Regions from separate parts of the Homo sapiens genome. Here regions 1, 2 and 3 are each linked to region 4. Evidence: fine-mapped expression QTL. A gene starts in region 4. Each other region holds a variant in brackets. All regions are shown on one strand. Distances are between the middles of the regions.

Region 1 (5,415 bases), 110 kb before region 4:
CTATCTCCTGTAGATGTGTGAGTTCCTTAAGGGTAAGGATGCCACGGGGCACCCTTGAACTTGGCGCCTGGCCCGGCCCAGGGGCTCTGTGCAGGCTGCCTGCAGGGACACCAGCTTGCCTGGCCATGCCTGGCCAAGGAAAGGCCACCACCAGGGCGGACACTTTTAACTCTTTTAGGCAGGGCGGATACCCTCAAAGCCACCCCTTTGGTGCAGTCCTCTTACTTGTACACTTTGGTATTGTATGTCCTCTCCCCAGGGAAGCCAAACATGCCGCAGACCACGCGGGAATTCTTGGCCGTCCAGTGCTTGTCACAGATCTGCTTCCAGGTCTTGCCCTCCTTCACCTCCACGTAGCCCTCCATCACTGGGGTGCGCTTGCGGTAGGTTGAGAGGATGGCTCGAATCCGAATGTCCTCCACCTGGATATTCAGGTTCTGGGAAGAAAGAGGCGTGGAAGGAGAGGGTTACCCTACTGGCCTGGCTGCAGAGACACCAGGCAACCAGTACTTCTTTAGCGACTATGGGCCAGGCCTGCCGCGGGCCTGCCTGTGCCCTCAGGCCCTGCAGTGAGCTCTGGGCAACCCCGAGGGGCACACGGCCCAAGCTGCAGTTAGAAAGCGCTATGCATGGGAGATAGTGAGGCTGAAAGGACCCAACAGGGAGTGGGGTGACCTGGAACAGTCAGAAAAGACTCAGAGACCCCATGGGCTTCTCCTACATCCGAACCTAAGATCTTGGAGAGCAAAGGGCAGCAGCCTCCTCCTGCACAGGCCTCGAAATAAATGCACAGGAGAGAAAGTGTTCTTTGAATGCGGATTTTGCATTTCACTCCAAAGTATGTGTGTATGTGCCTGTGAGTGTGTCTGTGTGTGTCTCCCTGATTCATCTTTCAGTAAAACTTGAGTTTCAGATAGAGGACCCCCAGATGTCCTGAAGCTGGTGGTGCCACCCTGCAGACTACCTCATACCCCAGGGGTGGGCATTCCTCTCTTCAAAAATCCTTAGAGAGGCCTGAGAGAAGAAGCAGGGCTTAGAGAGAAACGAAGCAGATATTCCTGGTGTTGAGCGTGCTGTGTGCAGAGACTCACACCTGCCTGGCAGGGATCAGGGAGGTAGGGTTGGGGACAACTATTTGGCTGCAGCAAGGAAAGGAGACACAGCAAGGAAAGGAGACACTTTGAGCCCCTTAGAGGGTTCCCTTCCCACACCCACCCCACCCATCTATCTGTGGAGTAAAGGACAGAGGCTGGGGTCAGGGTTGGAAAGATTCATTGGCAGGGCCCTTTGGGAGGAAGTGGAGGAGGGCTGGAGGGGCATGGGCGAGAGGAAGGCGCCTGCCTCCCTGCCACGTGGGTGTTCCCCCTCCCTCGACGTGGAGCTGAAATATCCCTGTACCACCTAGACCTGAGTCCCAGGGATCGGGCAGGAGAGGGGGCCTCAAGAGGCCAAGCTGAATGAGAGGAGAAGAGGTTCCCTGGAGTTACAGTGGCACTTTTTAATGCCTTTCCAAGACATGCCATAACAGGCTCCAAACTCTATGGAAGCTCCCCCCTAAATCACTCATGGCCAGCCATCACCAGCTCTTGCGACAGTCCCTGACTGAGTTCCTGCCTCCGTCTGTCTGCCACAGGGCCAGCCACCAAAGAGCCTCTTTTTTCTTTTTCTTTTTTTTTTTTTTTTGAGACGGAGTCTCGCTCTGTCGCCCAGGCTGGAGTACAGTGGCGCGATCTCGGCTCACTGCAAGCTCCGCCTCCCGGGTTCACGCCATTCTCCTGCCTCAGCCTCCCAAGTAGCTGGGACTACAGGCGCACGCCACCACACCCGGCCAATTGTTTGTATTTTTAGTAGAGACAGGGTTTCACCATGTTAGCCAGGATGGTCTCGATTTCCTGACCTCATGATCAGCCCGCCTTGGCCTCACAAAGTGCTGGGATTACAGGCATGAGCCACCGTGCCCGGCCTTTTTTTTCTTTTAATTAATTAATTTTTATTCTTTTTTGAGGCAGGGTCTCACTCTGTTGCCCAGGCTGGAGTGCAGTGGTGTGATCAGGGCTCACTGCAGTCTCCATATCCTGGGCTCAACCGATCCTCCTGTTTCAGTCTCCCAAGTAGTTGGAAGTAGAGGTGTACATCACCACGCCCAGCTAATTTTAAAATATATTTCAGAGACGAGGTCTCACTATGTTGCCTAAGCTGGTTTCGAACTCCTGGCCTCAAGGCATCCTCCCACCTCAGCCTCCCAAAGTGCTGGAATTACAGGTATGAGGCACTGCAGCTGGCTCTTTCTAAAACACAGATCTAACCTTGTCCCTTGACTAGCTCCTCTTTGTCTATGTAATACCCTAATATTGAGCAAGATGCTCTCGGCCATTCAGGACTGATTCCACTTATGCCTCCAGCCCCCTCACTGTCCCCAGCTTCACATGGATCCACAAACACCATGAATTGCAGTATATAATAGCAACAGCTACCGCAAAGCATGCACCAGGTACCCAGCCCTATGTCAAGTGTCTTCCTTGCATTCTCCTACTTAACCCTCGCACGCTGTAATGAGGTGGTTGATAGCTACTGCCATCCCCACCTTACAGATGAGAATACCAGCTGACTCCAGTTCCCTCCCTAGGGCCACCCCGAGGTGCAGTGGAAGACACACACACTGTGGGCGGGCCAGGGACTGGGAGGTGGGGCTGGTCCAAGCCGGGCTGGAAGGCAGGAGGAACCCAGCACCCCGACTGCCCCAGCCCTGTCCAACTGAGATGCAAATGAACCACGAGTTTGAACAGAACCATTCTTTGGGTGCCCAGGGATTCACGTCTCCTC[G/A]CCATGGGCTTCAGGGTCCACAGCCAGGCCCTACTCTCAGGTCCTGCAAGGCGGTGGAAAGTATGTGGGCCTGGAGTGATGGCACTTGGCTCCGTTTCCTTTCCACCACAGCAGAAGGAATGCTGCCAGGGGCAGGATTATGCCTTCCAGCCTGGATCCTGGATCCTTTACAGCCCTCATTCAGGCCGCAGGACCCGTGCCACCAAGACACGTGGACAGGGGTGAGCCAAGAAAGGGCCTGAGGTCTAAACCCAGCCCACAAGCCGGCCCTCTTCTGTCTCTTCCCACCTCGGGAGGCTGGGCTGGAATTCCAGTGTGTAACTGTCATGCCCAGAAGGAAAGTTACTGCCTAGCATCAAGACTGCACTTCACAGGGCAGGCGGCCCGGGCTGACCTTCAGTTCACAGATCCTTTCCCCTGCGTTGGGCAGCAGTGCAGGCTCGCTGCAGGGAAGGTGTGACCCCCAGCACCTGGCCACCACAGGAGGAGGAAGAAGGCCTGGCTGGAGGAGCTCAGCAGACCCCGCTGGAAAGAGCTACGCGGGCCTGAGGCCAGCACACACCAACCCAAACGCCAAGGGAGCTTGCTCTCGTTCCTGCGATGATGCGGGACAGTTTCCTCCGCTGAATAGGGCTGGTGGGGAGAGCCCCGGGGGCTCCACGATGAAGGCAATGCAGCCTGGAGAAGAGAAAGGGCTAGCACCGGGGGTCATTATCCTCATTCTTCCACCGACTCACTGCATACGTGTTTATGCATCTCTGTGTATGTGCATGGTGGTGTGTGCTTGATGGTCTGTGTGTGTGTGGTGTGTATCTCTGTGTCTGTGTGTGTGCATGGTGGTGTGTGCTTGATGGTCTGTGTGTGGTGTGTATCTCTGTGTCTCTGTGTGTGCACGGGGGTATATGCATGATGGTGTGTTTCTGAGTGTCTGCATGTCCATGTGTCATATGAGCCCCTGTATATGTCTCTGTGTGTGTGTCTCTGGGATTGTGTGTCTCTGGGATTGTGTGTCTGTGTGCATGATGATGTATGCATGACAGGGTTGTGTGTGTGTGCCGGTGTGTCATGTGGATCTCTGTGCACTCTCCCTGTATGTGTCTATGTCACATGGGTCTCTGTATGTATAAAGTGTGCATCTGTTTATGTGTCTTGTGGTGGAGGAAATTCTGAAAGGATCGTGTTCCTTGCAAGGCCTTAGGAAAACAGTCAGGACACCATTCGCACTCATTCCTTCAAACTGGACCGTCTTCTCTTCTTCTCCCTCCAAAGAACCAAAGCCTTTCCAGTCTTTAAGGCTCAAATCTACCGTATGCATTCATTTAACAAAATGCAGTCTCTGCCCTCCTTGGGCCTTGCTGGGCTTCCTCCTTACACCCCAACCACAGCGCCCTGTGTCAGCTTTGAATAATGACAGCTATGGGCATCATTTATCAAACACCAATTAATTGCAGGCTAGGTTCCATACAGAAAACTTTACATCCACTCCATTATTCAATCCCCATGGCAGCTTTCAAGATGGCTCATGGTCCACCTGTTTAGAGGTAAAAACATGATAAATCTTGGCAAGCTTTTGGAAGTTATCCAAGTTCACACAGCCAGTAAGTAGGTAAACAAGTATGCAAATTGAGTTCTGACCCCCAAACCCGTGCTCCAGGCTCATAATGACCACTGGTCTCTGAGCAGTCCTCATCTCATGCCTGTGTCCAATACATTGCCTGGTACTGAGGGTGACTCACCCAGGGCAGGGCCTGGAGCTCAGAATTCTGGGTGTCCCCTTCAACCAGCTGAAGGGTGCTGGTGCTGTGCACATTGGAAGCCCAGCACCCCATGTCGAGGGGCAGTGAGTCAGACTGGATTGTGTACGTGAGGGGAGAGCTGGGCTCCCAGCATTCTTGTCTTCAGGCCAGCGGGAGGAGGCAGGGAAGCCCTCTGGGGCACACATTCGGTGCTCACACTAGCTAACCAGCTCATGGAGACTGAGTTAGACCTCTTAGAAAACACGCCCACACACATAACCTCTCTCTTTACTTCACTGCTGTGGAATCCCTTCCATAACCACAAGTGTTAGGATACATTTTGCCCCAGGAGTTCAGCCCCAAAAGTGAAAAGAAAGTGTGAAATATTAAAATATACACACACTTTTTTTTCTTTTTTAAATGAAAGGCAGTCTAGACTTGCTAGTTTAAAATTCAGCCCCAGCCGGGCTCAGTGGCTCACGCCTGTAATCCCAGCACTTTGGGAGGCCGAGGCAGGCGGATCACGAGGTCAGGAGATTGGGACCATCCTGGCTAACACGGTGAAACCCTGTCTCTACTAAAAATACAAAAAATTAGCCAGGCATGGTGGCGGGCGCCTGTAGTCCCAGCTACTCGGGAGGCTGAGGCAGGATAATGGTGTGAACCTGGGAGGCGGAGGTTGCAGTGAGCTCAGACCACACTACTGCACTCTAGCCTGGGCGACAGAGCGAGACTCCGTCTCAAAAATAAAATAAAATAATAAAATAAAATAAAATAAAATAAAATAAAATTAAAATAAAATAAAATAAAATAAAATAAATAAAATAAAATAAAAAATAAAATAAAATAAATAAAA
Region 2 (5,405 bases), 36 kb before region 4:
AGGGCAGGTCCCTATCCAATATGACAGGTGTCCTTATAAGAAGAGGAAAATGCCACGTGAAGACCGAGGCAGAGATAAAAGTGACACAGCTGCAGGCCAAGGACCATTGAGGATCGCTGGTCACCGCCAGAAACCAGGAAGGGGCAAGGAAGGATTCTGCAAGGTCTCAGAGGGAGCGTCGCCCTGCGGACTCCTCAACTTGACTTCCAGCCTGCACAACTGTGTCTGTGCTTTTCCACATTGTAGGCCCTGCCTTCGTGCTGTTAATTCTGCCCACCGCGTTTTCCTGTACGGTCCCCTCTGAAAGCTCCACAGCCTTTCCTATTGAGCTCAAGTGTCCCCTGCTCTTGGTAAGTATATTCGCCTCCTAGGGCCCTCATGACAAAGCACCACAAACTGGGTGGCCTCAATAGCAGACACTTATGCTCTCACAGTTGTGCCCCTAACACAGGAGAAGCTAGATACCTCTGGTGTTTCAGCTTAACGCTTACAGCTAATTGCAGTCATTCAGGTTTTACAGCTCACAGCCTCAGATCCTATTAACTTTGTCTGTGATTCAGCTTATGTTGTAAATGTAGCCAGTCGCATAGAAACTGCCACAATTAAAAGTACACTAGACCCAGAACTGCTTAATTAGTTAATTAATTAATTTATTTTTGAGATGGAGTTTTGCTCTGTTGCCTAGGATATAGTGCAGTGGCACAATCTCAGCTCACTGCAAGCTCCGCCTCCCGGGTTCACGCAATTCTTCTGCCTCAACCTCCCGAGTAGCTGGGACTACAGGCGCCCGCCACCACGCCCGGCTAATTTTTTGTATTTTTAGTACAGAAGGGGTTTCACCATGTTAGCCAGGATGGTCTCGATCTCCTGACCTCATGATCCACCTGCCTCGGCCTCCCAAAGTGCTGGGATTACAGGTGTGAGCCACCATGCCCAGCCGCTTAATTTATTTTTAAGACTTCAACAAGTTATTCGTTCTCATGCAGCTCCTTTTCATATTTCTCATATTTGCTCTCACACACAACTTCCTGGACCCCTATCTCTAGGTAATGAGAAAGCAGACAAACTGATTGGTTCTGTGTTTCGGCAAGCTCAAGCATCTCATGCACTTCTGCACCAAAATACTTCCACCCTTACTCGCATGTTCCATTTATCTCATAGCCAAGCTAGGGCTATAATACAAGCCTGTCCTACTTGCCAGCATGTCCCTGGAACTATACCTGTAGAAGGCTGTAACCCACGAAGTTTGGCTCCAAATGAAATTTGGCAAATGGATGTTGCACACATAGCAACCTTTGGTAAGCTTAGCTACGTTCATGTGACTATAGACACTTATTCTCATATGCTGCATGCTACATGCCAAACAGGTGAGACAGCTGGTCATGTATGGCCACATTGTCTGTCATCATTTGCTCACATGGGGATACCTAAACAATTAAAAACTGACAATGGACCCACTTATACTAGTCATGCTTTTCAAAATTTCTTACAGCTTTGGGCTATAACCCATAAAACAGGAATTCCTTATAATCCTAGAGGACAAGGCATTATAGAGCAGGCACATCAAACATTACAACGCATATTGAAAAAACAAAAAGGGGGTATAGGAGACCAACTACCACCTCAATCAAAACTACATTTAGCCTTACTTTAAATTTTCTGACTCCTGGTATGGAAGGTAAAGACTCCAGCAGAAAGACATTGGCAAGTGTTAGAGGAAAAGAGGAAAGTTTATCCGAAAGTGTTACGGAAATCCCCGGAAGAAGGCCAATGGAAAGGTCCAGTGGATTTACTAATGTGGGGAAGAGGGTATACTTGTGTTTTTGCAGGAGATGGATGAACTGTGTGGGTGCCCTCAAGGTGCGTGCGACCATGGAATGGGAGACTGGAGGAACCCAGGGTGGCCAACCATGGACCCGGTCCCGGTATGAGCCATGAGTCAGCTGAGCCTGAATGCAAAGACGGAGAGAAGGCCGACCGGAGTCACAACACAGTTCTAAGGTTACATTTGTAAAGAATATCATCACTCAATTTACAGTTTGTGTTTTTAATCCTTATGTCTTTTTGGCAGCTAAGAAGGACCAGCTCCAGGTAAACAATACCCAATTGACCTGTAAATCTTGCCAGTTATATCACTGCACTAATCATAGCACATTGCAAACACATAATATCTCTACTGTGATGATTTTAGGTGGTATCCCTGGGCTAGGGATTCCTGTTAATCTGTCTGAGCCTTGGGCTGCCACACCTGCTTTGCATTTTGTGAAACTTCTAACTCAGCTGACTCATCGTGCCCGTAGAGCCTTAGGCATGATAATTTTTGCTACTGTTTACTTGGTCATGCTAGTAACTTCTGTTGTGATATCTTCTGTAGCTTTGCATAATTCTATTCAAATAGCTCAGTACGTGGAGAACTGGACGCGCACAGCTGACCAAGCGTGGCGACTTCAGAATAAAATTAACACTGAGCTACAAACTGAAGTGGCAATGCTGAAATCCACGGTTCTGTGGTTAGGGGCACAAGTACAAAGCTTGCAGTTGCAGCAGTAATTGCGCTGTCATTTTAATCACACTCATATTTGTGTAACCAACTTAGAATACAACCAAAGTGAGTATCCGTGGGACCTTGTGAAAGCCCATTTGCAGGGAGCGTTCACATCCAACATCACCTTTGATATTGGTGAATTACAAAACAAAATTCTTGATTTAAATAGGCAAACTCAAGAATTTCAGCCTTCTTTAGAAGACGGGACCAAATTCCAGCAAGGCCTGGAGAGCCTCAACCCTTGGACCTATCTAAGGCACCACATTAACATCTTATATGTAGTTCTTGGAATAATGTTGTTTCGTCTCTGTCTTCTGTTTATAGTCTGTAAAATCGGATGGACTGCCAATCGGAGAATGAGAGCTGCCCAGCCTGGCCTTACATTTTTTCAATTAATTCATAAACAGAAAGGGGGATATGCAGGGAGCCGAAGGCCCATGGGATGTGACCAACGCAGCATTCCACTGGAGGCTATATGATCCAACAGCAAACTGTTTATCATGAATGCAGGATGTGAGAAAACTGACGACTGCTCCTGCCGACAGAAGGTTTGCTGGAGGCAATCACTCCCTGGCGCTGAGGTTATCTACTGCAACATTTAGCCTGTTGTTCGAGGAATGCAGTCTTGCAAGCCT[G/A]CTCTAGACTGAGCAGCTGACCCCTTCTTCCACCCCGCTTCTCACTATCTCTTTTGCCTAATAAATAAGGAGGGCTGTATAAAGCTCAGGGCCCTTGTCCACTAGGGGCAAGGTACCCCCTGACCCCTTCTTCAAAATATACTCTTTTGTCTCTTGTCTTTTATTCCCGTGTTTGCCCCGCTTTGTTCAGTCCCCCTAGGTCCGTGCAGGTTACAGTGGAATCCGTATTCACGTGCATATTCTGGCTCATTTCATACTACAGAAGCAGTGAGGTGAGTTTTGGACAGAAGTCATGTGGCCTGCAAAGTTAAAATGTTTATTATCTGGCCCTTTAGAGAAAAAAATTGCTGCCTGGTCTGAAGCGGCATTTTTCAAATGTGAGCATGCATTATGAGTGACCTGGAAGGCTGGCAAAATGAAGAATTTGATTCAAGAGGTCTGAGACCAAGCCTGAGATCCAGCACTTCCGTCAGGCTTCAGTGATGTTGATGCTGCTGATTCAAGGACCACACTTTGAGAAGCAAGTACCGAGAGCAGCTCCGTCTGACGGAAATATACTGTGAGCCACACAGGCAATTTAGAGTTGTCTAGTGTACACATTAAAAAGGTAGAAGGAAACAGGTGATGTTAATCCAATAATATTTTATTTAACTCAATATACCTAAAATATTGTCATGTCTCATGTACCCAATGTAAAGAAACTGAGATATTTCATATTTTTTTTACATGAAGTCTTTGAAATCTGGTGTGTCTATATCTATATATAGACAGACAGATATAGATATATATTTTTTTGAGACAGAGTCTCACTCTGTTGCCAGGCTGCAGTGCAGTGGGGAGATCTCAGCTTACTGCAACCTCTGCCTCCCGGGTTCAAGCGATTCTCCTGCCTCAGCCTCCCGAGTAGCTGGGACTACAGGCGCCCACCACCATGCCTGGCTAATTTTTGTATTTTTAGTACAGACGGGGTTTCACCATATTTGCCAGGATGGTCTCAATCTCCTGACCTCGTGATCCGCCCGCCTTGGCCTCCCAAAGTGCTGGGATTACAGGCATGAGCCACTGTGCCCGGCCTGAAATCTGGTGTATATTTTATACTTACAGCTCATCTCAGTTTAGATTGGCCTGTTTCATGTGGCTAGTGGCCGTCATACTGGACAGTGCAGCTCTAGAGTACAGAATGGAGCCAGGCTGCCTGCGTTCAAATCCCAGCCCCACCACTGGCTAGTTCGGTACCTTGGGCAAGTTGTGTGCCTTTTCCACATCTGTTTCTCCACCTGTAAAGTGACGGTAATCAAAGCACCTCCTCATGGTGTCATTTTGGGGACTGACATGGTTAGGCTTTGTGTCCCCACCCAAATCTCATCTTGAATTATAATCCCCACAATCCCCACATGTCAAGGGGGAGACCAGGTGGGGGTAATTGAATCATGAGAGTGGTTTCCCCTGTGCTGTTCTCGTGATAGTGTTCTCAGGAGATCTGATGGTTTTATAAGTGTTTGGTAGTTCCTTCTGCATTAATTCTCTCTCCTGCCACCTGCCAAGGTGTCTTGGTTCCCCCTCTTCACCTTCCGCCGTGATTGTAAGTTTCCTGACGCCTCCCCAGCCATGCTGATCTGTGAGTCAATTAAACCTCTTTCCTTTATCAATTACCCCGTCTTGGGAAGTTCTTTATAGCAGTGTGAAAACGAACTAATACAGGGATTATGTAAGCTAACAAAGAGCTAGAACAGTGCCTGGCGTGTAATAAGCTATCTTTCTGTTATGATGACGGTTCTGCACAAGAAGCACCTTCTTTCCCTCTAATAAAGCAAGGAGGTGGTGCCATCTTTCCTGCCCCCATCCCTGGGGCCAGACTGTGGAGTTTAGCATGCTCTCTCAGTTCTCAGCCTGGTCATTCCCCCTCGCTTTAAGGATCCTGCCTTGTTCATTCATTCCACAGATATTTATTGAATGTCTACCGCCTATCAGATCCTGTGCCTGGGGATACAACATGAAAACACACAGACAAAAGCCCCCTGCCCCCTGGCTCATGTTCTAGTAGGGTAATAGGGAGAGTCGTACATAGAACGTAATGAAAACAGAGTGTACTAGATCTAAGGTCATAAGCATCATGGGGGAAAGTGAAGCAGGGTGAGGGGGATGGAAAGTCCTGAGAGGGCCCTGAGGCCAGGGTGGCTGGAGCGGAGTCTCGGAGAAATGAGGACTGCGGTCAGAGAGGTGTG
Region 3 (5,415 bases), 23 kb before region 4:
CGCACAAAACAAACTCCACCTAAAAAAACTGTACGAGAATTCCCCAAACTTCTCAACTAAATAAATAGGTGAAAAAACACCAATCTCACATATGCCAATCCAATTGTCCTTTTTAGATTTTGGCTTAAATTGTCGAATTTTTTCCTTCAAAATGTGAATTTATTTCCTGTATTGGATGCAGACTCTTCCCTTCTGGATTTACAGTGGTGCTGCCAGCAACAGCCTCAGTCAATGCGGTTAGGAAGAGGACTCGGCAGGCTGTGCATGGGGTCTCCCAGTACGATTAAAAGCTGAGATGACTTTTAATTAAGGGGGGTGGGGGAAACACCAATTGGAAGCTGGAAGAAACTGAGGCACGATTAAGCAGAAACACTGAGGAATACTGAGCAAGAAGTGGGCATGTGCTCTAGTTCCAATAAAACCGAAACTGGTGAAACTAGGAATTTCCAATTCTTTCAAAACCACAGTGTTCTAATGCCACTGAAATATGGAATAAGGAGCGTAATTACCTGCGGTCAGGAAAAGATAACAGTAACGAGGATTTTTCTAAATAAAATGTACCAGTAAATTCTGAAGTGTGTGTTTTTAAAGAACCAGCATTGCCTCCCCTCACGCTGGTTTCTTGGGATTTTTCACACACTCGCACAAAGCTGTAGTCGATAGTTCACTATCACTTTTATAAATGGTTATCTCCTGGTGCCCATGTTTCTCTGTTTTGGATATAAATGGTTTAAAAAATTTAAATTTGCAAAGAAAACATATACAGTAACAGACCTGAACAATAAATAAAAAAAAAAATCACCCTCTTCAGGTTAGAGCTTTCAAGATAGAGAAAAAAGAGGATTATCATTTCAGGCAGTAAGTTTTTTGGTTCTATGAAAGCATCACTATTCAGTCCCCTCTCCACTGACAGAATGCATCTTTCCACCTCCCTCCAGTATCAAAGTGCATGTGTTTAAATTTAACATTCCTTAGAGAAACCCCAGAAATCTCATTTATTTTTGGCAGATATCCTGTGCAGCAAAAATCAAGTGAATTTCCCTCTTCCCCACTCCTCAATTTAATGCTGTACTCAAAATGGCTAAACGCAATACTTCTAGACAGCAGGGCTTATAAACAATGCATTTTTTTTTTTTGAGACGGAGTCTCACTCTGTCGCCCAGGCTGGAGTGCAGTGGTGTGATCTCGGCTCACTGCAAGCTCTGCCTCCCAGGTTCATGCCATTCTCCTGCCTCAGCCTCCTGAGTAGCTGGGACTACGGGCGCCCGCCACCACACCCAGCTAATTTTTTGTATTTTTAGTAGAGACGGGGTTTCACCGTGTTAGCCAGGATGGTCTCGATCTCCTGACCTCATGATCCGCCCGCCTCGGCCTCCCAAAGTGCTGGGATTACAGGCGTGAGCCACCGCGCTCGGCCTGCATTTTGTTTTTGTTTGGAGGAACAAAAAAGGGAAAGAAAAAACAAAACCACAGGAAAATAAAGAGGAGAAACCCTGAGGCAAAAATGGCTTTTCCTTTTGAGTCTTCGTGGAGCTGTGAGCTGGATCACAAGGTCCCCGGGGCATTCTGGGCGGGAAGGCCCTCCTCCATCCAGAGGGCGGCGGCCGAGCTGCTCCGGGGAGTGCGCCTGTGGATGCGCCGCAGCCGCAGCAGGTACAGCAGGATGGCCAGCAGCACCACCAGGAAGCAGCCAGAGAACAGGTAGTGGTTGTAGACAAAGGAAACGCCCCGCCAGTGGGTGTGACTGGCTCGGAAGGCCTCCTGCTGGATGTCTCTGCCCATGTGAACACCAAACAACAAACAGGACAGTAAGCAAGGAAAGGGGTGGAAAGGGTGCACAGGGGGACGGCGGGACCCAGGCCCCAGAGCTGCACTTTAGGAACTGCAACCCTACCTCTGAAATGGAGAACGGAACAGCCCAATGCAGGGGGCTTCTAAGTATCAGTGAGATAACATGTGAAAGTATACTCTGAAGTCGGTCATTATAATTTGGGCAACCAAAATCAGAGGAATTTAGAAGAGCCGTGAAGGTTTCGCTGATACAAAGAAGTCAACATGTAAACAAACTGCATGCTTGTGATCAGTAACACCCATGACTCACCATTTTTACAGTTAACCCAGTTAAAAGGGTTGCTGAGAAATGCTCAATTAAATGGAGGGGGTGGGGGGAAGAGCAAATGTCTCATCTATCAGGTAACTCAGGTTCTTAGCACAGGTCAACTGACAGCAGATCTGCAAACGTGAATGGGGAAAAACGCACATCTTTGTTCTACCCAAGCGCTGACTGAGATGTAGCATTTCTTTGACCATGAATGCAGACAACAAACTATCATTAGCGTTGGCAGCACCTGCAACTTTGTTACTAACGAAAATCACAGATCTTTCATGTCCCATTATGGTATCATCAATGCCTCAAAATATCATTGACGCTCATTGACTACACTGAAATTACAGAAAGTGCTAATTCTGCTGCCAGATCCTGTTATTTAATGTGTTAATAGAGAAGAACACATATTACAGTATCACAAACTTGTTTTCTGTAATATTTTGGTATTATTTCAATATGATGGTTTCTTCTGTAATCCTATGTATTTATACATGCATTTAAACAGTATTTGGAGAAGAGGCCTGAGTCATAAAGGTTAAGAACCCCGGAACTGACCCTTTTGCCGGGGCTGGGGAACAGACAGTTGAGAATAACCAAACACAGGGCAGTAGGACAGGAGTGCTGTGTATTACGGGATGGTAGGGTGAGAAGGGAGGAAGCACTTGTGGGGAGGGGGCAAGACCAAAAGCAAACGTCACTGTCCCTACAATTCTGCCGTGGCCGGCTCTAACAGCAATGCCCCAAACAGCCACAGACCACAGCTGCCATGAGGTGCTGTAACTGCAGAAAAGCATCTTTTTGATTCTCGTTCCCAAATTCACAGCCCTACCTTAATGGTAGAAAGCGGGTCCTGTAGAGGATGGCTCCAAGGGTCCACTGAACCTCCTTGTCGTAAACTTGCAAGGCAGTCTTTAAGCTTTTATAGTTGACAGGAAACGAAAAGCCCCTATGAAACACCTCAAACATCCAGGCCGATTTGAAGCACTGATACCTACAAACGGCAAGCACAAAGGCAAGTCAGACTGACTCACTCTGTCAAGATG[G/GCA]CACACACACACACACACACACAATCCTTCCCTCTGTGGGCAGCCTTGGGGCAGGGGCTTCCTCAGGCCGGCTCTCCCAAACCAACTGCGCGCGTTTCAAGGTTGATGTACTTGCTTCACATCCCTGGTCCCACAACATGGAGCAGTTCACCTGTCAAATCAATCAGTGCATGAACCCGGTCTCGGCATAATGTCATATATCCCTGAGATAGGTTTCTTTTCCAGCTGGCATTTCACCATGTACTCCTTGAATGAATACTGAACAGGTTCCAACCTCTTTGTACCTCAGTTTATTATAAAATGAGATGGTAGGAAGGTTCTCTTCAGCTCTGATATTCTATGACTCTAAATATTTATTAGAGGTTTATTTTTTGCCAAGCACTGTGCTAAGCAAGTAATAAGATACAATAATTAGTAAGATACAGTGTCTGCACTTAAGTGACTTACAATGAAAGGGGATTTTTAAAAAGCAACAGAAAAAGCAGAACATGATAAATGCATTGGCGAGGTAGGATGAATTCTTGAGACTCAGAGAAAGGGATGAAGTCTGATTGAGGGGACAGAGGAAGACTGGAAAGGGACAGCCTCTGGCTGGACTCTGATGTCTGGGCAGGACTTGAACAAGCAAAGGTATGAACAGGGGAATTTCAGGGGTAAGAGACAGTAAAAGTGACCAAAACAAAAAAGATACGGAATATGTCTGGGCACAAGTATTTGTCCCGTTTGAAAGGGGCCCAGGGTAGATGGGAAGAACAGTGAGTGAGAAGAAGCTGGACTGAGGCCAGGGTGTGGCAAGCCAGTGGGGCCAACACTGCATTATGGTTCTTAAGAGTGCCCTGGGCTTGACCTTCTAGTACTTACTTAAGCCTGTGGAGGTCAGCATGAGAGGCGTACAGTCCTCGGTCAAAGCGTTCCCGCAAAATGGACCACTTTGTTGCACAATAATCCTGAAAACAAATTCACCAAAATAGATCACTAGTAAAGGCTTATTAAAATTCTCACTTTAAAAATGGTTTACCAAATTTATATTTGTAACAAGCATATCCTTCCCATTAGGAAACACACAAGCTTAACTTATACAACAAATGGCAAGACACACAAACACTCAGGGAATACTTACTGATTCGCAAACACAATGCCTTGCCTTAAAATTCTGTCCAGGGTATTGTTAAAGAGAGCTTTGCTGTCCACAACCAACCTCTCCAAAACTGTTTAGTTTCTCCCTCCATGACTGCATGGTACGGGCATACATTTTTGGAAAAGTGAAGCAGTATTTTAGCTACTTCAAACTAAGTCCTACATCTGTGGAGGACACAGTACAAGCTACTGGGATAATAACTGCAAAAGGTTTTTGTCTTTAACAGAAGGGAAAGAGATCCCACTTTTCTTGAAGTTATTTGTTATAATAACTTTTATTGAGCATTGTGTAAGTGTGTCTTCTCAATGTAATACTTAACTCCTCGAGGTGGCTACCATCCCGACCTCTATTTAAAGGATGAAGACACTGCTGAGAGGTGGGAGATGGGCCTGGGTGTGTGACAGGGAGCACAAGGAAAAAGCACTTGGCCTGGGGAACGGGCTCGGCATAGGCACTTCAGGAACATGGACATGGACACAGAGAAGTCGCGGAGAGCGTGAGGGAAGCCAGCTGTCTGACATGATTACAGCATACAGTGCTCTGCGCTTCGAGATGGGTTTGAGAAATACTTGGAAGATAAAATACCACACTTGTGACTGATTACACTGGGGTGTATAGGGAGAGATGAAATGGTTAGAGGGAGAAGTCCATGACTCCTAGGCTGCAGGGAAGGGGACTGGATGGTTGGCGATGCCATTAACCGAGAGAAGAACAGGAACAGAATGGAGAGAGGATGGTGGGTTTGTCTGGAGTTGTGGAATCTAGCAGGCAACCGGGCAGGGGTCAGGATTGGAGCCTCTTCTTGAGAGGCAGCAGCAAACCCTGAATATGGATGAGACCATCCAAGAACCTGAAGATCAGGGGCCAAGTGTGGAAGTCTGGCATCACCTAAGTTTAAGGGGTGTCAGGAAGGCAGAGAGAACACAAGAACAGGAGTATCCTGGCAGGTCAGGGAGGGGGAAGGCTAGTAGGAGAATTGTCACATGCAGCAAAGCACAAAAATGACATAAAAGACTGTAATTTGGAGCTAACTGATGACCAGGGTAGCTAATGGAGTGGTGCAGAAGTCAGCGTACAGTACATTTTTTACTTCTGCTGTGACTATTCAACCTCCCTCCAAGCAAAGG
Region 4 (5,415 bases):
GAATTTTTTTTTTTTGAGATATGTGATGATTTTGATCAAAAGGACAAACAGATATTTTAAGTTACAAAGCTTGTGTTTAAAAGCAGAGAAAATAGGACAGCTTATAACTGCTGAAGCACTGTAATTTTAACTCAGGACAAAAGTACAATGGATTATTGCCTAAGAGTTAAATGGTAATTTGATCTTCAAATGTAAACTCCAATTGTCCTTCTAGCTAAGAATCTTCGCACCAGGGCACTGGGAGGCAAATTCAGTAATACCACATAAAACTGACATGTTTTAAAAAAGCCTAAATTGTGTTAGACCTATCACCAGAGAGATGCATTAATTCTCATGATTTCAGCTAGTGGGGCCCTACTTGGCTGAACATTATTGGAATAAAGCCTACAGTCAGGTGTCAATGTCTTTGTCAGTCTCTCACTGACAGTTCTACAGATAACGACGAAAACAATGCAAATCAACCACAAAGGGAAATGGTTCCTCTGGTGGAAAAACACAAGATGCAAGGAAACAGATGTTAGTGAACTCAAATCACAGGCAAACAAAATCACAGAGAAGTCAGCCTCTGGGAGAGCTCAGCTTCTGAATAAGCAAAGGTACCACAGGGAAGGGTACTTCAGAAAAGAATGATTTGAATATCAAAGGATTCAAGAGAACCTGGAAAAATTAAAGATGCTCTCAACCATTCCGGCAGCGTTTTGCAAGAAACAACTGTCTTTCTGAGAGTGAGAGGCTGATGTGGAGGCTGCCGGGTGGCACCGTTACTCAGTAGTGACAAAAGATACATGAAGACAACTTGATTCATTCTTTAAGAAGATATGTATGTAGTTGCATTTATGATCTGTATGTTCAATATTTATCTTACACATTTTAATTTTATTTTTCAATATAAAATCTTAACCTCTTCCTCCCTCTATTAATTTGCAAAATTCTGGTTCCCATTTTAAGTAGTCTTTTTCTGGTCACTTTTCCTGAATTAACTCTGACTTTCCTCAAGTTCCAGTTCCACGTTCCAAGCTCATTGAAGCCCTGTTACTGCAAGCTCAACTAGTCCAACTCTAGGGTTGAAATCTTCTAATGCAAACTCTAATACCACCCTCCAAATTCTCCAGGTCTAAGACGGGTACCACCAATCCCCATTGACCTGGATTACCTGGTTCTCAGCTTTGATTCCCACATCCGGTGTTGACAATCTTCTATCATTCTCCAAGCCAGTCGATTCTTCCTCAGATATCCCTCATATCTAAGATGACCACAGCAGGCACCACTACCTCAAGACAGATCTCTTGGCGACTCACCCACCTTCTGCCTTCACTGTGCACGCCACACTTTACAAGCAACTCTTTGTAAAACACGGCCTTCAAAATATGATCAGCTAAGAACCTTCTGGAAGGCCATGGATCAACACCAAGTTTCCTGTGTGGCACCTGAAACCTTTTATCCATCAACTGGTCCACCTTATCTCACCAACCTATCCTCTCATCAGTCCCAGATACCATCTCTCAGCTCCAGTGCAGCAGGTCTCTCTCTTCTCTCCCACACAAGCTGTCTCCATGCCTGCCTCAGGCATTTACTAACAGCACTTCCTCCGAGCCACCACCGTGTCCTCCTCTCAAGACTACACTTCTTTCAAGGCACAAGTCAACATGTTTCTTTGTCAAGATTTAACCTGTTACACATCCTGATGTTTTCTTACAATTGGAATCGTCTCTTTATTCATGAGTAGTCTATTTTAAATAAACATGCTGAGTAAATACGTAGAGAATATAAATCCTTAGATAAATGTTCATTTTTGTCTCCTTCCTAGACTATATCCTCAAGGGCCTCAGTCACACATTTCCTATTAGAGGTAGAAGAATATAAGCCATAGATTCAACATGCAACAACTACAAGACCTCTGTTAAGGTAAACAGAGAAATAAACGATTCAACTACACGAATTAGTGTTCCATTTTATAATTCTACTATGTCAAACAGAATTAACAAACCTGATACAAAAACATCAAATATATGGTAACACAAATAATATAACTCTTTTAGGCCTCTCTAAAGCTGGATAATTTGGTATTTTCATCACAAAAAGGAGACAACAAAGACTGCAATGCGAAATTAGCCTGGGCTTTGAGTGTCTAATTTAGAATTCTTCCATTACCTCTAGTTTACCTTCTAGCCTGAAAGTTCCTGAATCATAAAGGATCTCTTTAGTTTCCTTCGTGATAAGTGTTCTCTGAAAACGCTCTGCACTAGGGTTCATCTAACTGGGGTCTGAAGCACCCTAAGGGTTCTGGGACACATTCTAGACCATGAGAGAATTGTTCCTTTAAAAGGGGTCCGCGCATTACTCAAGTTCAGAAACAATGCTGTGCATCATCACTTTACTGCCCAATAAGCTCCATTTTTCCAAGAAGAAATCTAACATGAAATCTGGCAAAAGCAAAGCAAAGCGAAAACGACAAGACGAGCGAATGTCATCATTTAAAGCGGCAGGCAGGGCCGGCTGGGTCCCGGGTGCAGCATCCCTGCTGCCCGGTCAAGCTCCGCCCATTCGAGGGGGGGATCCCGAGCGGTCACCCGAGGCGCGCGACCGCCAGGTGTCCCCTGCCAGGGGCTGGGGGAGCGCGCCGGCCGCCAGGGCTCACAGGGGTTGGTCCCGGGGCGCTCGGATGTGGCCGCGCGGCAGGGGAGGCGGGAACCGGTCCGCGGGGCTAAGCAGGCGGCTGTGGGGGCCTGGGGCAGAGAGGCTCGTCCGCGGCCCGCTCGCCGCGCCGCCGGCCCCCGCACTCCAACCCACTCGCCGGCCCCTTCGGCCGCCCGCCCTCCCCTCACCCACGCTCGGAAGGCAACCTCACCTGCTTGGCCGGCCGGGGACCCCGGGAGCGGGGGACCACCAGTGGGCAGCATCACGGCCAGCCGGCTTCCTGGAGGCCGCGCTCCTTTCCTGGAGCCGCACCCCCGCCCGGCCCCCGCCGGCAACACGTCACCGCCTGCGCCCGGAGCGCGCCCGCTGGCGGCGGGAGCGCGCACGCCGAGGGGCGCGTTGAGCGCTGGGGGGCGGAGCCTGATGCGGGATGATTGGCGTCCGAGCGCTGGGCTGTTCCGTGGACCCGCGCGGCCACGCCAGTGTGCTGTGCACGGGAAATGTGGACGTGGGAGCACGGAGGCACCCAGTACTGTGGCGTGGTGCTCGTCTGGTCGTCAGCGAGCCTCAGCGTACTTAGGACACCGCAGTTTATCTTTCCTTAGCGCTCCTAACGGTTATGGAAAATAGCGCTTGAAAACCTGGTAAGGACTAGGCATTGTTGCTCAACTCTTGACATTTACACCTTTGCCGGTAACTCTCCCTGTTTCACAGATGGGGAAACGGAGGCTCACACTTATTCAGTCTCTCTTGAGATCCACCTGATTCGTGAGAGGTAGAGCCAGGATTTCATTCTTGCCCGTCGATGGCATATGTTAGTGCCTATGTTGGGGGAGGCAGACTGCCCCAGCCCTCCCCAACACACGCAATGGTTATGAGAAGAAATAAAGCGAAGGGTGTTCCTGAGATTGACCCCATGACCTACACTTAGTACAAGGCTAAGCTCTCTTAGCTCTCTGGCTTAGCAATAAACTGCTTTGAAGACACAGAACTTTGCACTTGAGAGCCGGAAGAGACCTTGGGAATCCCGGGTTCCATCCTTTCTTCCACCTTGTATACAGGTGAATGCACTGTGGCCCAGAGATAGGAAGTGACCAGCAATCCAGCCACTTTAAAAGATTTTTAAAAACAAGAGCCCTAGAAACGTCTACTCCATTCCATTTATCAAGTAAAACAAGCATAGACAGAACTGGCAGTTCTACATCTTAACACAGAATCCTTCTTGGTCCAGCACCCGCCTGGGTCACCTCCTCTTCCTGGATTCAGCTACTGTTAACGGAAGAAACCATGAAGCCTCAGAAGGTTAGAGCCAAAGGGACTCTACTGTGTAGCCCCAATCACCTTCTTTTACAGTTAAGAGCCTGGAACCCAGAGAGGTTGAGTGACTTGGCCAAGACCCCCTGGAGGCAGAGGAGAGCAGAACCAATGTTTCAGACTCCCACATGACTTGCGCATCAGTGTCTTTTTTTTGACAATCTGTTGCTATAAGAAATTACTCGTTTGGATAATTTTCACACTAGAAAACCCTGTGACCCAAGGCTAGCATTGAGAAGCTAAAGCTGGCCACTGACATACTGTGATTTTAAGGACAGTCTCCTTCGAAATTATCTGCCTTTCAAAATCTTTGCCATTGGAGACACTGGTTGGGGTTATGTTAGTCTTCCTTAAGGAGGGCTCTACTAAAATGCCAGACTAGGCCGGGCATGGTGGCTCATGCCTGTAATCCCAGCACTTTGGGAGTCCAAGGCAGGTGGATTGCCTGAAATTAGGAGTTCAAGACCAGCCTGACCAACATGGTGAAACCCCATCTCTATTAAAAATACAAACACTAGCTGGACATAGTGGCTTTTTTGTGCCTGTAATCCCAGCTACTCAGGAGGCTGAGACAGGAGAATTGCTTGAACCCGGGAGGTGGAGGTTGCAGTGAGCCGAGATCACGCCAATGGACTCCAGCCTGAGCAACAGAGTGAGACTCCATCTCAGAGAGAGAGAGAAGAAAAGCCAGACTAGTAAGTATTATCACACCATCCATATTTCCTGATAATTTATATGTAATAATTGTCTGATAAGAGCTAGGAAAGAAAAATATAGGAAAGTATGGAAACGTGTAACTTGGCATATTACATTCTAGAGCTGCAGTGACAAATTGCCCTAAACTGGGTGGCTTAAAGCAAGATAATTTATTGTCTTCCAGTTCTAGATGGTAGAAGCCTGAAATGAAGGTGTCAGCAGGGCTGTGCTCTCTCTAAAGATCTAGAGGAGGATCCTTCTTTGCCTCTTCCTAGCTTCTGGTGGCTACTGGCCATCCTTGGCCTTCCTCAGCTTGTAGATGCATCACTTTGGTCTCTGCCCCTGTTGTCACATGGTATTATCTCTGTGTGTCTGTGTCTCTGTCTCCAAGTTTCTTTCTTCTCATAAAGACACCAGCCATATTAGATTCAAGGCTCACCCTCATCCAGTGTGATCTTATGATCTCATATTAACTTGATTATATTTGCAAAGATCCTATTTCCAAATAAGGTCACATTCATGGGTTCTGGGTGGACATGAATTTTTTGGGGGTGGTCACTATTCAACTTAGTACATGAGAGGACCATCCTGGTCTGGTTCATCAGGGAGAGCTTCTTTGAGGTAACGCTGTCTGAGGTCACACCTGCACAATGAATGGGAATTTATTAGAATTCTGGGCCTATATGAAGGAATAGTATTTCAGTCAGTGGAAACAGCAAAGAGGCTCTGAAGGGGCCCATTCTCACTTGTTAACAAGAGAAACAAAAA

The links. PIP is the estimated chance that this variant, and not a neighbour inherited with it, causes the effect.
Region 1: its variant is fine-mapped to the expression of ENTPD4 in tibial nerve (GTEx, PIP 0.97).
Region 2: its variant is fine-mapped to the expression of ENTPD4 in whole blood (TOPMed, PIP above 0.99).
Region 3: its variant is fine-mapped to the expression of ENTPD4 in whole blood (INTERVAL, PIP above 0.99).

The regions. Positions count from the first base shown.
Region 1 is chr8:23,340,767-23,346,181 of GRCh38, forward strand. It overlaps LOXL2 (lysyl oxidase like 2), which reads right to left. Exons shown (of 14, transcript NM_002318.3): 4 at 226-437. It overlaps LOXL2-AS1 (LOXL2 antisense RNA 1), which reads left to right. Exons shown (of 3, transcript NR_038323.1): 2 at 260-383. Among named protein-coding and RNA genes, the nearest start is that of LOXL2-AS1, 7.3 kb to the left of the region's middle. The variant G/A (reference allele first, on the strand shown) is at 2,824.
Region 2 is chr8:23,419,154-23,424,558 of GRCh38, forward strand. No RefSeq gene overlaps it. Among named protein-coding and RNA genes, the nearest start is that of LOXL2, 18 kb to the left of the region's middle. RefSeq lists an enhancer at 3,069-3,569. The variant G/A (reference allele first, on the strand shown) is at 3,181.
Region 3 is chr8:23,431,381-23,436,795 of GRCh38, forward strand. ENTPD4 (ectonucleoside triphosphate diphosphohydrolase 4) reads right to left here. Exons shown (of 13, transcript NM_004901.5): 11 at 4,012-4,097; 12 at 2,937-3,098; 13 at 1-1,774. The coding sequence ends at 1,546. Among named protein-coding and RNA genes, the nearest start is that of ENTPD4, 24 kb to the right of the region's middle. The variant G/GCA (reference allele first, on the strand shown) is at 3,151.
Region 4 is chr8:23,454,709-23,460,123 of GRCh38, forward strand. ENTPD4 (ectonucleoside triphosphate diphosphohydrolase 4) reads right to left here and starts at 2,939. Exons shown (of 13, transcript NM_004901.5): 1 at 2,849-2,939. ENTPD4-DT (ENTPD4 divergent transcript) reads left to right here and starts at 3,063. Exons shown (of 5, transcript NR_186533.1): 1 at 3,063-3,281; 2 at 4,506-4,646. RefSeq lists an enhancer at 106-607 and a silencer at 2,473-3,152.